Linked DNA regions of Homo sapiens. The protein of the gene in region 1 interacts with the protein of each later gene in a pairwise test. Each region holds a gene or a part of one and is shown on either strand. Other genes may lie near its edges.

Region 1 (2,878 bases):
AAAATGTCCAGGTGTGTAGGATGTAGGTGGGTGATGGTAGGAAAACTACGATTCAGCCCCTAAAGTAAAAAAAGAAACACAGTTCAATCATTAAAAATGAAAGCCCTCAAAGAGAGGCGTCAGTAGCCTTTACCTCACTCAGGAGTTCAGCAAGTTTTTACTGTCTATCTCCAGGTCTGCTGCAATCCTTGACACCATTCTGTCCACAAATCCTCCAGACGCGCCAGTCTCCATGCCTGCGTACACTCCCCTCTGCTCAGGATCGCACACGACACTTTACTCTTGTATTCTGTCAAGGTCCCAAGCTGGGACTCTCAGGGCAGCACTTATAGACAGGTGTGATCACGAACCTTTTCCAAGTCAGTAAAGTATCTCTTTCCACAGAAATGTCAACACAGCATCTGTATACTTATCAGCTACTTGATTTATATAAAAACCATTAATAACTCGTTGATGAAGACTACGTTGTGAAACCAATTTTTAAAATTCTAGAGAAAAAATTATTCAAAATCCTAGGTCTTAATTTCATTTTTACTGTTAAAATAATTTTTAAAAACTCAACCATTTGGGTGTAATAGCTACTAACTTAGAGAGAAACAGGATTAAAAGAGGGAGCTTTTTCTTCCCTTGAACAGGATGACTCTACTTCACACGGTAAGAGCAGTCGTTCTACGTCCACGCGATCAGTGGGTTCTGGGGCATGATCAGATGGGCTTTCCTGCGGTACTGTCCCATACACCAGGGATCACCAGGTTTGCAGCAGCACGGGAGGGAGATGGGAGCCTGTGTGTCTCGCAGCACATTATCACCCGACAGGGTCCTACAGGTGAGACGTGAACACTGACAGCTGACCTCCACGTAAAAGCAAAGCCTCATCTTACGATACAAGTACTCAGCGGTTTCTTACTGGCCATCTGACAAGCTGCTCTTCCTAACTTCTCTTAGTACCTTCCAACATGTTCCTAACCCAGACCCTAATGCTGTCCTAACATACAAGCTGCAAAGAGAAAAAGAACAGGCTGCTAATTTCTTCCCTTTGATTTACAAACAGCTCCATTAACCTGCTCTTCCAAACATACTCAAGGGCTGGCCTTGCAGCCTGCGGGGGAGACGGCCTGATGCTGGGCTCTGTGAATCCAGGAACCGGACTCTTCACCATGTTTAACTTCTGACCTTTTCAGCTGCTGGAGCAAGATGGTTAGTGGGCATTCTACTGGGCCAAGCCGCGGACATGCCAGCAACTCCCTGTCCAACCTCTGGCCTTTATTTAAAACCCAGATAAACATTGAGTGAGTGATGACACTGGTCAGGACAAAGCTCTGAGAGTACAGTACCTTTCAGTCACATCAATTGCCATATTAGGAAAACCTATAATGGTTTCTAGTATCATTCATGCTTTTGACTAGCTAGGCAGACTGTGGTAAAGATTCATGAGTCATTCTGAAAATACATGAGGCTGGCTGAATCCCCACACTGAAAGATTAGAACTAAACATCAACAGTAATTTCTAGATAGGTTAGAAAACCACATAAACGTTTCATTCACTAAAATACTTTCATTAGTGCTCATTTATTATTTATGTAGAAAAGTTTAAAATGCTCCCAATGAGTTCATCAGTTATCAAGCTCACATGAGTTAGGCCCACTCTCCTTTGGTTTTTCATCTCATAATAAGTCAGCAAAAGTTGACATTTATCTTACTAGACATTTCCCATTAGCCCTAACTGAAACAGATATCAAACACCCTAGATTCTCTTCAGTGCAAAGTATCTGGAGTCACAGCAATTTTAGAGACAAGCTAGTGCAATCTAGTAATTTTCATAGTCGCAGAAACTGAGGCCTAGAAGTGATTTGTACATGTGAGCAGCTAGAACCAGGACAAGAACTCCAGAACCTGGGACCACGTGAGAGTAAAAAGAAAGGGCACCGAGTACAGGAACAACAACTGACACATTTCAGGTGGAAAAAACAAGTCACATAACTGAAAACCAAAATCACAGTTACATAACTATTTTATATTAGCTTCCTACATATAAAGTATAAAAACTCAGCTATACATGTTATGAAATTGTACAAACTTACACTTGTTTATGGCCTAAAATTTGTATAAGGACACACTTATACAGATTTCATAAACAATGGCCATTTTTAGAAAAAGTTATATTTGTCCCTGAACATAATATTCATAATTTGCTTTCAAAACAAACTCGAAGTAAGGATTGGACTTTAAGCTTCCAAGCTGATCCGCTTGTAGCAGGTCTTTCACCTCCGGTAAGTACTCACTGAGCTGAATGCCTATAAACACAAACACAAGAAGTCATTTTTCAATTATTATAAAATGCTCAAATGAATTCTGATGATTGATGACAAAAGCACCTGTGCTTCTATTTAAATATAACGTCACTTTGCTGTTGGGAAATACTCTCTTCTAAATTCCTTCCATCTGTCAAACATACTTTCAAGTCTAACAATGTGATATCCTTTACAGGGGCTGCCTGAGTGTTTTTCCCTCCAGTGGTCAAAATAGCCATTCTATTTAAAGTGTTTAATAAGATCTGAAACGTTTTCATGTATTCCCAAGCTTGAAAACAAGTATTTCAAACACTTATATGATCCCCTATTTAGGGAATAATTTAGTAGAAACACTGTTATGAACGCTAGCTACAGGATCTCAAAATGTGTTTACAGTATAAATCTAAAATTAGATAGGCAAAAGAATCATTTCTTCACAAGTCATCCATAGAGCTGAAAAGACAGTGAACATGAACTAAATGGATTGTTTGACATCTGTGTAGTTACAAACAAACATACACAATTTTCTCATTTGACAAATAGAGAAAACTGGATGAAAATTTTCAAATTAATAAGCCAATAATATT
Region 2 (7,650 bases), on another chromosome or scaffold:
CGCGCCACTGCACTCCAGCGTGGGCTGCAGAGCGAGACTCCGTCTCAAAACAAAACACAAAACAAAATTGTTTCTCGGTCAAATCCTCCAGCGGTGTTCAGTTTTTGGGCGTGCAGTGCTTTCTGCAGAGTTGGGAAGACTCACTGGTTTCTACCCTGGCCCTTTCTGGACTGCACCAACTGACCCTGGTCAGGGCAGTGACGCGACCCGAGCGCGGGCACCGCGGTTGCAGTGCGGACTCCTGCGCGGCCCCAGTCGGGCGGTGGTGCGGCTCCCGGCGGGCAGACTGGGCCTGGCACGTAACCCGCCCCCTGCCCTGGGTCTGCAATCAGTCGTGCCCGCCACGGAGTTAGCCGAAGAACAAAAACCACTCTGTGGCAGCATCCCCGAGCCACAATAGGGCTTTGTGCGGCCCCCGCCCCCCAAGGTTACCCCGCTGGGCTGAGGGGGCTCACAGGCCGCTCCCCCCGGCCTGGGCCCGACTCCCAGCTGCGCCCCGCGTCGGACTGTCCACCGCACGGGTCGCAAGAGGGGCTGCTACGGGTGGGAGGGGGCCGGCGATCCTGGGGGGGCTCGGGTTACGAGCCCCCTCCCCACCCTGACGCCACTCCCGCCCCCGCCCAGGTGCGAAATCTCCTGCCCTCCGGCTGGGCGCGCGACTTCAAAGGCGCTTTGAAGAAATCCGAGTTCCGAAGACTTCTTTAGTGGGCTGGGGGCTGTGACGGAAGAGACCCGGGAGAGGGGGCTGGGGCAGAGGAAAGGCGGGGGGCGCCTTGGAGCTGGTCTGAGCGAGGCGGCGGCCTGGAGTGGAACCCCGGGATCCCGCCTCAACCCCGCCGGGCGGGCTCCTCCGGACCCCCCAGAGTCTGGCCCTCTCGCCTCCCGGTCTCCGCCTGTCCGGTGCCAGCTCCCGCCCGCCGCAGCCTCGCGGTCCTCCCCTCCCCAACCCTTCGGCCCCTTTCATCTTCCCTAGACTCCGCTTGGGGTTTTGCTGGTTTCTGGGAGATAAAAACCGCTTCAAATAGCGGCGGCGCGCTGCCAGGACAAACAGGGCCGGGCGGGCCATGTGCGCCTGGTTACCGGCCCCGGGTCGGGACGCCGGGCTCCAGCGGGCCCGGGAAGGGGTAGCGGGCGGAGCTCCGGGCACCCAGGCTCCGGTGACGACTCCCAAAGTAGGGGGCCCCTTTTAGAAGCGGCCTGCGCGCTCTCTCGGTTCCCGCCCAGGTCGTAGGGAGGGGCCGGCGGAGACCGCCCGCTAAGCGCTCGGAGCCCATAGGGCGTGGGTCACGGTCGCTGCGTTGCCTGGCCAGCCGCGCCCCCTGGTGAAGTTACTGGGTGAGCGCGCCGGGCCTGGACTTGGGCCTTTCTAGAACCCGCAAATGGTGAAAAGCGTTCCACAAACGTTAAATAAGCAGTATGGAGGAGGGGACAGTACTTGTGCCAGGCCAGGGCGGGGGCAGCGGGCGGAACAGCACTGTTCCTTCTCTCCAGTTCACCTTACAGGGTAAGAAGCAGGCACCTAACCGATCATTATAACCTGATGGTGAAAATCGAGGTTTCATCGAAGGATGCAAGTTGCAGGCCGGAGTGATTTTTCCTAGGGGTATCTGGGTTTGGATGGTGTTACGACTAAGGTACAAACGGAAACTATCGTGGGTCCTCAGTGCTCTCCACTAATCTGTCAGTCACCGACTTCCTCTCCCTCAAACCTGCCCACTTCCCCTTCTCAGGGAGGCTTTCCCAGCCAGGTTCCCCAAACCATCCCCAGTGTATACCTTATGTTCTTCAAGCTTTCTGTGACTTCCCAGGTGACGGTGAACTCACATAGGAAATTAAATGGGGCTATGGGAAAAGGTTAGAGCAGGGGTCGCGCCACGGCCCGTCGTGTCGGTGGCCTGTAAAGGAACCGCACAGCCGGAGACGAGCTGAGCAAGCTGAGCTCCGCCTCCTGTCAGATCAGCGGCATTAGATTCTCATAGTAGCGCGAACTCTGTTGTGAACTGCGCACGTGAAGGACCTAGGTTGCCCGCTTTTTATGAGAATCCAACTAATGCCTGATGATCTCAGGTGTAACAGTTTCATCCCCAAACCATTCCCTCCCCCGCTCCCCCTGGAAAAACTGTCTTCCACTAAACCTGGTGCCAAAAAGTTGGGGACCGCTAGGTTAGAGCCTTGCTACTTAAAATGTGGTCTGTGCAGTATCAGCTGGGGATTCTTTGGAACTATAGCCTCTGAGCGCCACCTTAGGAGATGCTCAGGTGATTCCTATGTCCCTTAACAGTTGAGAAGTACTAGATTAGAGGAGATCCACTTGCCTTCTCAGGTGAAGTGCATTTTCAGGAGACTCTGGAGCCCTTTGTTTTCTGACCTGGTAATAACTCTCTTGGGGGGAATTTTTCAGGTGAAAAAGAAGGGCAGACACGGAATCCAGAATACTAGAACTAAATGCCCCCTAGATTATTCAATGAGACTGGTAGCTCTTGGGAGTGGGGACAGCCTTCTACATCTTCAAATCACTTAACATTTGTTAATGAACTCTGACCAAGGTCACCTAGTTGATGGCACAGTTATAGCTATTAACCTCTGACATTTGTTTAGCACTTTAAAATTTATTAAATAGCTTCATTTTATTATTTTGTATGGAAAACAACCATATGAAATAATTAGGACACTGCAAATGAGAAAAGTGAGACTCAAAGAATTCAATGTTTTTTCCAAAGTCTGTAAGAGGGGCCCCCATTCTCTTTCTTTCTTTCCTTTCTTTCTCCCTCTCCCTTCCCTCCCATTTTTTTTTGTTTTGTTTTGTTTTTTGTTTTTTTTTTTTTTTGAGACGGAGTTTCGCTCTTGTTGCCCAGGTTGGATGGAGTGCAGTGGCGCGATCTCTGCTCACTGCAACCTCCGCCTTCCAGGTTCAAGGGATTCTCCTGCCTCAGCCTCCCGAGTAGCTGGGATTACAGGCATGCACCACAATGCCTGGCTGGTTTTGTATTTTTTAGTAGAGATGGGGTTTCTCCATGTTGGTCAGGCTGGTCTCGAAATCCCGACCTCAGGGGATCAGCCCACCTCAGCTTCCCAAAGTGCTGGGATTACAGGCGTGAGCCACCGCGCCCGGCTCTTTCTCTCTGGCTTGCTTGACAGGGTCTCGCTCTTTGACCCAGGCTGGAGTGCAGTGGTGCTATCTTGGATCATTGTAGTCTGGATTCTCCTATCTCAGCCTTCTGAGTAGCTGGACTAAAGACGCTTGCCACCACCACGCTGGCTAACTTTTGAATTTTTTGTAGATACAGGGTCTTGCTATTTTGCCCAAGCTGGTCTTGAACTCCTGGGCTCAAGAGATCAGCCTCGGCCTCCCAAAGTGCTGGGATTACAGGTGTGAGCTACCACACCCAGCCTTACTTTTATTCTTAAGTGAGAATAACTGGTTTGGGTGTATCTAGGTCCAATCTCTCTGTGACTCACTTTCCTCATGGTGACAGAACAGCACCCACCTTATGGGGTTGTAAAGATTATAAAAGCACTTATCGTAACAAGTGCTCAGGAAATAGTTTTGCAGCCCGGCAAGGTGGCTCAGGCCTGTAATCCCAGCAATTTGGGAGGCCAAAGCAGGCAGATCACTTGAGGTCAGGAGTTTGAGACCAGCCTGGCCAACATGGTAAAACCTCGTCTCTACTAAAAATACAAACTTAGCTGGGCGTGGTGAAGCATGCCTGTAATCCCAGCTACTCCAGAGGTTGAGGCAGGATAATCGCTTGAACCGGGGAGGCAGAGGTTGCAGTGAGCTGAGATAGCACCACTGCCTTCATCCTGGGCAATAGAGCGAGACCCTGTCTCTCAAAAAAATAAAATAAAATAAAGTTTTCCTTTTTGAGACGAAGTTTCCCTCTTGTTACCCAGGCTGGAGTGCAATGGTGCGATCTTGGCTCACTGCAACCTCCCCCTCCGGAGTTCAAGAGATTCTCCTGCCTCAGCCTCCCGATTAGCTGGGATTACAGGTGCCCGCCACCACGCCCGACTAATTTTTGTATTTTTAGTATAGATGGGGTTTTCAGCATGTTGGCCAGGCTAGTCTGCGAACTCCTTTCAGATGATCCACCCACCTCGACCTCCCAAAGTGCTGGGATTACAGGCGTGAGCCACCGCGCCTGGCAGGAAATGTTAGTTTTCCAACCGTCCCCACCTCCCTTTCCAGGACGCCTAACCGTGTGGGTGCAGCACTGTTCCTCCTCTCTGAGGCTTTTCCCTCAGCTTTCCAGCCAGCTGCCTGTGACATAGCCTGTATTTTCCTCTGGGTGATCCACAGGCCTGGGAGGATTAATTTGGTACTTCCCTGAATGTGGCTTATTTCGGGCTTTCTAAGCGCTAAGATAGTGAGTGGGAGAAGGTGTTCGGGAATTCGGAGCTGGGAAAAACAGTAGTCTCATGGAAAACAACAGAAAAAAACCCCACTCCAGCCTGGTAACCAACGGTTGGCCGGGGGACGTGTCCGCGCTGCTCCCCCTCCGGCCGCCAGGGGGCGCAGGAAGAAGCTTTGGAGGTCTGTCCCGGGACCGCGTACTCGTCCTTCTTTCCCGTTAGTCTTTTCTTCACTTCCGTTGAGTTCCGCCTCGCCGTTTGTCCCTTGCGGTACCCGTCCGCATACGAATCTAGCCCGGGAACCGAGTTGCGGGAGTGCGGTCTGTGCCGTTCCGGCCAGGAGTTTGCCGACTGCAGACGTCCTGCGAACCGGCAAGATGTGCTCTCTGGGGTTGTTCCCTCCTCCACCGCCTCGGGGTCAAGTCACCCTATATGAGCACAATAACGAGCTGGTGACGGGCAGTAGCTATGAGAGCCCGCCCCCCGACTTCCGGGGCCAGGTGGCCAGGGCGAGGAGGGAGGGGACCTACAGGCATGGGGGCGGAGTCGGGGACTACTGGGGAAAGGAGGCAGTGTGACAGGGGCAGGGTCACAGAGTCTGGCGGAGTGGAAACAGCTTGGCCCCGGCAGGAGGCTAGAAGGGCTGGAATCTGTTTTAGGACTGGGATTGGAGTATAACGGGGGAACGGTTAAGGAGCTGTGGAGGAGGCCTAGAGGGAATGGAGAGAATGAGGGAGAATCTAGGGAGTGTGAGGATGCGGGAGAACTATCTAAAAGTTGGGGACAGTATCTGGGGAGGATCAGAAGGATACAACATGGAACTTTTTTCCATGGTGTTCCTGGGAAGGACAAGGAAGGGAAACTGACATTTATTGAGCGTTTGCTATGTAAGAAAGAGGCTGAGTCAGGTGTTTTCTAAAAATGTCATATGGTTTCATAATCACAGCAACCCTATGAAATATTATTCTAGTTGCACAGATACGGGAGCTAAGACTTGTTTCCCATTCTCACAAGTGTTAGCTTTGTGGAAATGGGAAACAGACCTCTGGAATCTCTTATACTTAGCCCAGCGGTGGGTTGGAGATGGCACGGAATTAAAGATTTGGGAAGAGACTGAATCACCGTCACACTCCTCACTTTTGTGCTATAGTGGATCAATCTTCCTGTCCTACAACTGACAAAGGATCCCCTAAAGACCCCTGGAAGGCTGGACCATGGCACAAGAACTGCCTTCATCCATCACCGGGAGCAAGTGTGGAAGAGATGCATCAACATTTGGTGAGGCATGGCAAAGGGTTTCCTGGGTCACAGTCTGCAGATCCTGGAAAATGAGTCAACACCCCTTTACCTTGGGGTGTTCTTCAAAAGACTTTTATTCAGGCTGTCTCCACGAGAGCTGTATATCCTAAATCATATGAAATTTTTAGTCCTTATTATAGAACTCAAATGCTCAATAAATGTCAGGTTCCCTTCCTTGCCCTTCCCAGGAACACTATGGAAAAAGTACTTCCATTTCATCTCTAGTAACTTGCCTTGCTTTCTGGCTTGATTAGGTGAACCTGCTCCCTGCCCCCACCTCATGGCATTACCACTTCTGAGCTTTTACCTGAAGCTCAGCAAGATCAGATATAAGGTTGCACTGAATAATCTCCTACATAGGTCATCCACTTTGCACTTGTAGGAGTGGAGCTACACTACCTGGTTTCATTTTCTTTTTTTTTTTTGAGATGGAGTTTCACTCTTGTTGCCCAGGCTGGAGTGCAGTGGCGTGCTCAGCTCACTGCAACTTCCACCTCCCAGGTTCAAGCGATTCTTCTGCCTCAGTCTCCCGAGTAGCTAGGATTACAGGCATGTGCCACCACGCCCAGCTAATTTTGTATTTTTAGTAGAGACAGGGTTTCTCCATGTTGGTCAGGCTGGTCTTGAACTTCCGACCTCAGATGATGTGCCCGCCTTGGCCTCCCAAAGTGCTGGGATTACAGGCGTGAGCCACCGCGCCCGGCTCATTTTCTTTTTCTTTTTTTTTTTTTTTTTTTTTTTGAGACGGAGTCTTGCTGTGTTGCCAGGCTGGAGTGCAGAGGTGCGATCTCGGCTCACTGCAGCCTCCGCCTCTCTGGTTCAAGCAGTTCCCCTGCCTCAGCCTCCCGAGTAGCTGGTACTATAGGCATGTGCCACCACGCCCAGCTAACTTTTTGTATTTTAGTAGAGATGAGATTTCACCATGTTGGCCAGGGTGGTCTGGCCTCCTGACCTCAGGCCTGCCTTGGCCTCCCAAAGTGCTGAGATTACAGCTACTGCACCTGGACCTATTAATGGCACATATTAATTCCTTTAAGGGTTATTTATGCCAGGCACAGTGACTCACGCCTATAATCCCAGCGCTTTGGTAGGCTGAGGCCAGCAGATTGCTTGAGCTTAGTAGTTTGAGACTAGCCTGGGGAACATGGCGAAACCATGTTCTTTTCTCTACAAGAAAAGTACAAAAATTAGCTGGGTATGGTGGCATGCACCTTTATTCCCAGCTACTTGGGAGGCTTATGTATAGGAGGATCACTTGAGCCTGGGAGGTGGAGGTTGTAGTGAGCCAAGATTGTGCCAGTGCAGTGGCACTGAGTGAGACCTTGTCTCAAAAAAAAAAAAAGGGTTACTTAATATTTTTATTAATACCATTACCATTTGTAGGATAAATTCCTAGAAATTAAGTTGCTGGCTCAGAGGGTATGTTCATCTGTAATTTTGTGAGCTGTTCCAAATAGCCCTCTGTCAAAATGGTACATGTATATGGTCCCACCAGCAGTGTATGGGAGTGCCTGTTTTCCAACACATGTGCTGTCAAGCTTTGATCTTTGGTACTTCAGTACAGTTTAATGGGCATGCCTGTGTGTGTGAAGTTGAATATCAGTTTGTTGAAAAGCCATTCATTCCCAGGCTCCTTGTCTCCTACTTCTGTGGCTGCTGCTTCTCAGGGTTTTTGGTGGCTCCTCTTCCTGATGTCCCTTAAATGTTGGTGTTCTTGGGGCTAGATTTCCAGTTGATGCATCAGACCTGGTGTTCACGTGTTTGCCAAATTATCCTGCTTGAATATTTCGCAGACTTCATATATTCAGCATGCTCAAATCCAGTCTCTTTATTTCTCTCTCCAAATCTGCTTCTCTGGATGGTTCACTTTAAGGAATGATCATATTACTCATTCAGGAAAAAGTGGTTTGAGTATAGGTTCTGGGGTAGATAGATGGTTGAATCCTGACTGCTACTTTCTACTTAGATTACCTTGTTCATATTAATTAGCCTCTTCAC

What was found.
Region 2: the proteins of NUP133 (region 1) and AAAS interact in a two-hybrid assay, tested with the Homo sapiens proteins (one study listed by IntAct).

What each region holds. Positions count from the first base shown.
Region 1 is NC_000001.11:229,439,747-229,442,624, forward strand, and holds the end of NUP133 (nuclear pore complex protein Nup133), read right to left. Parts: intron 2,295-2,878; coding exon 2,158-2,294; 3' UTR 513-2,157; downstream 1-512. UniProt on the Homo sapiens protein: Involved in poly(A)+ RNA transport. Involved in nephrogenesis.
Region 2 is NC_000012.12:53,318,546-53,326,195, reverse strand, and holds the start of AAAS (aladin), read left to right. Parts: upstream 1-4,585; 5' UTR 4,586-4,730; coding exon 4,731-4,853; intron 4,854-5,503; coding exon 5,504-5,631; intron 5,632-7,650. UniProt on the Homo sapiens protein: Plays a role in the normal development of the peripheral and central nervous system.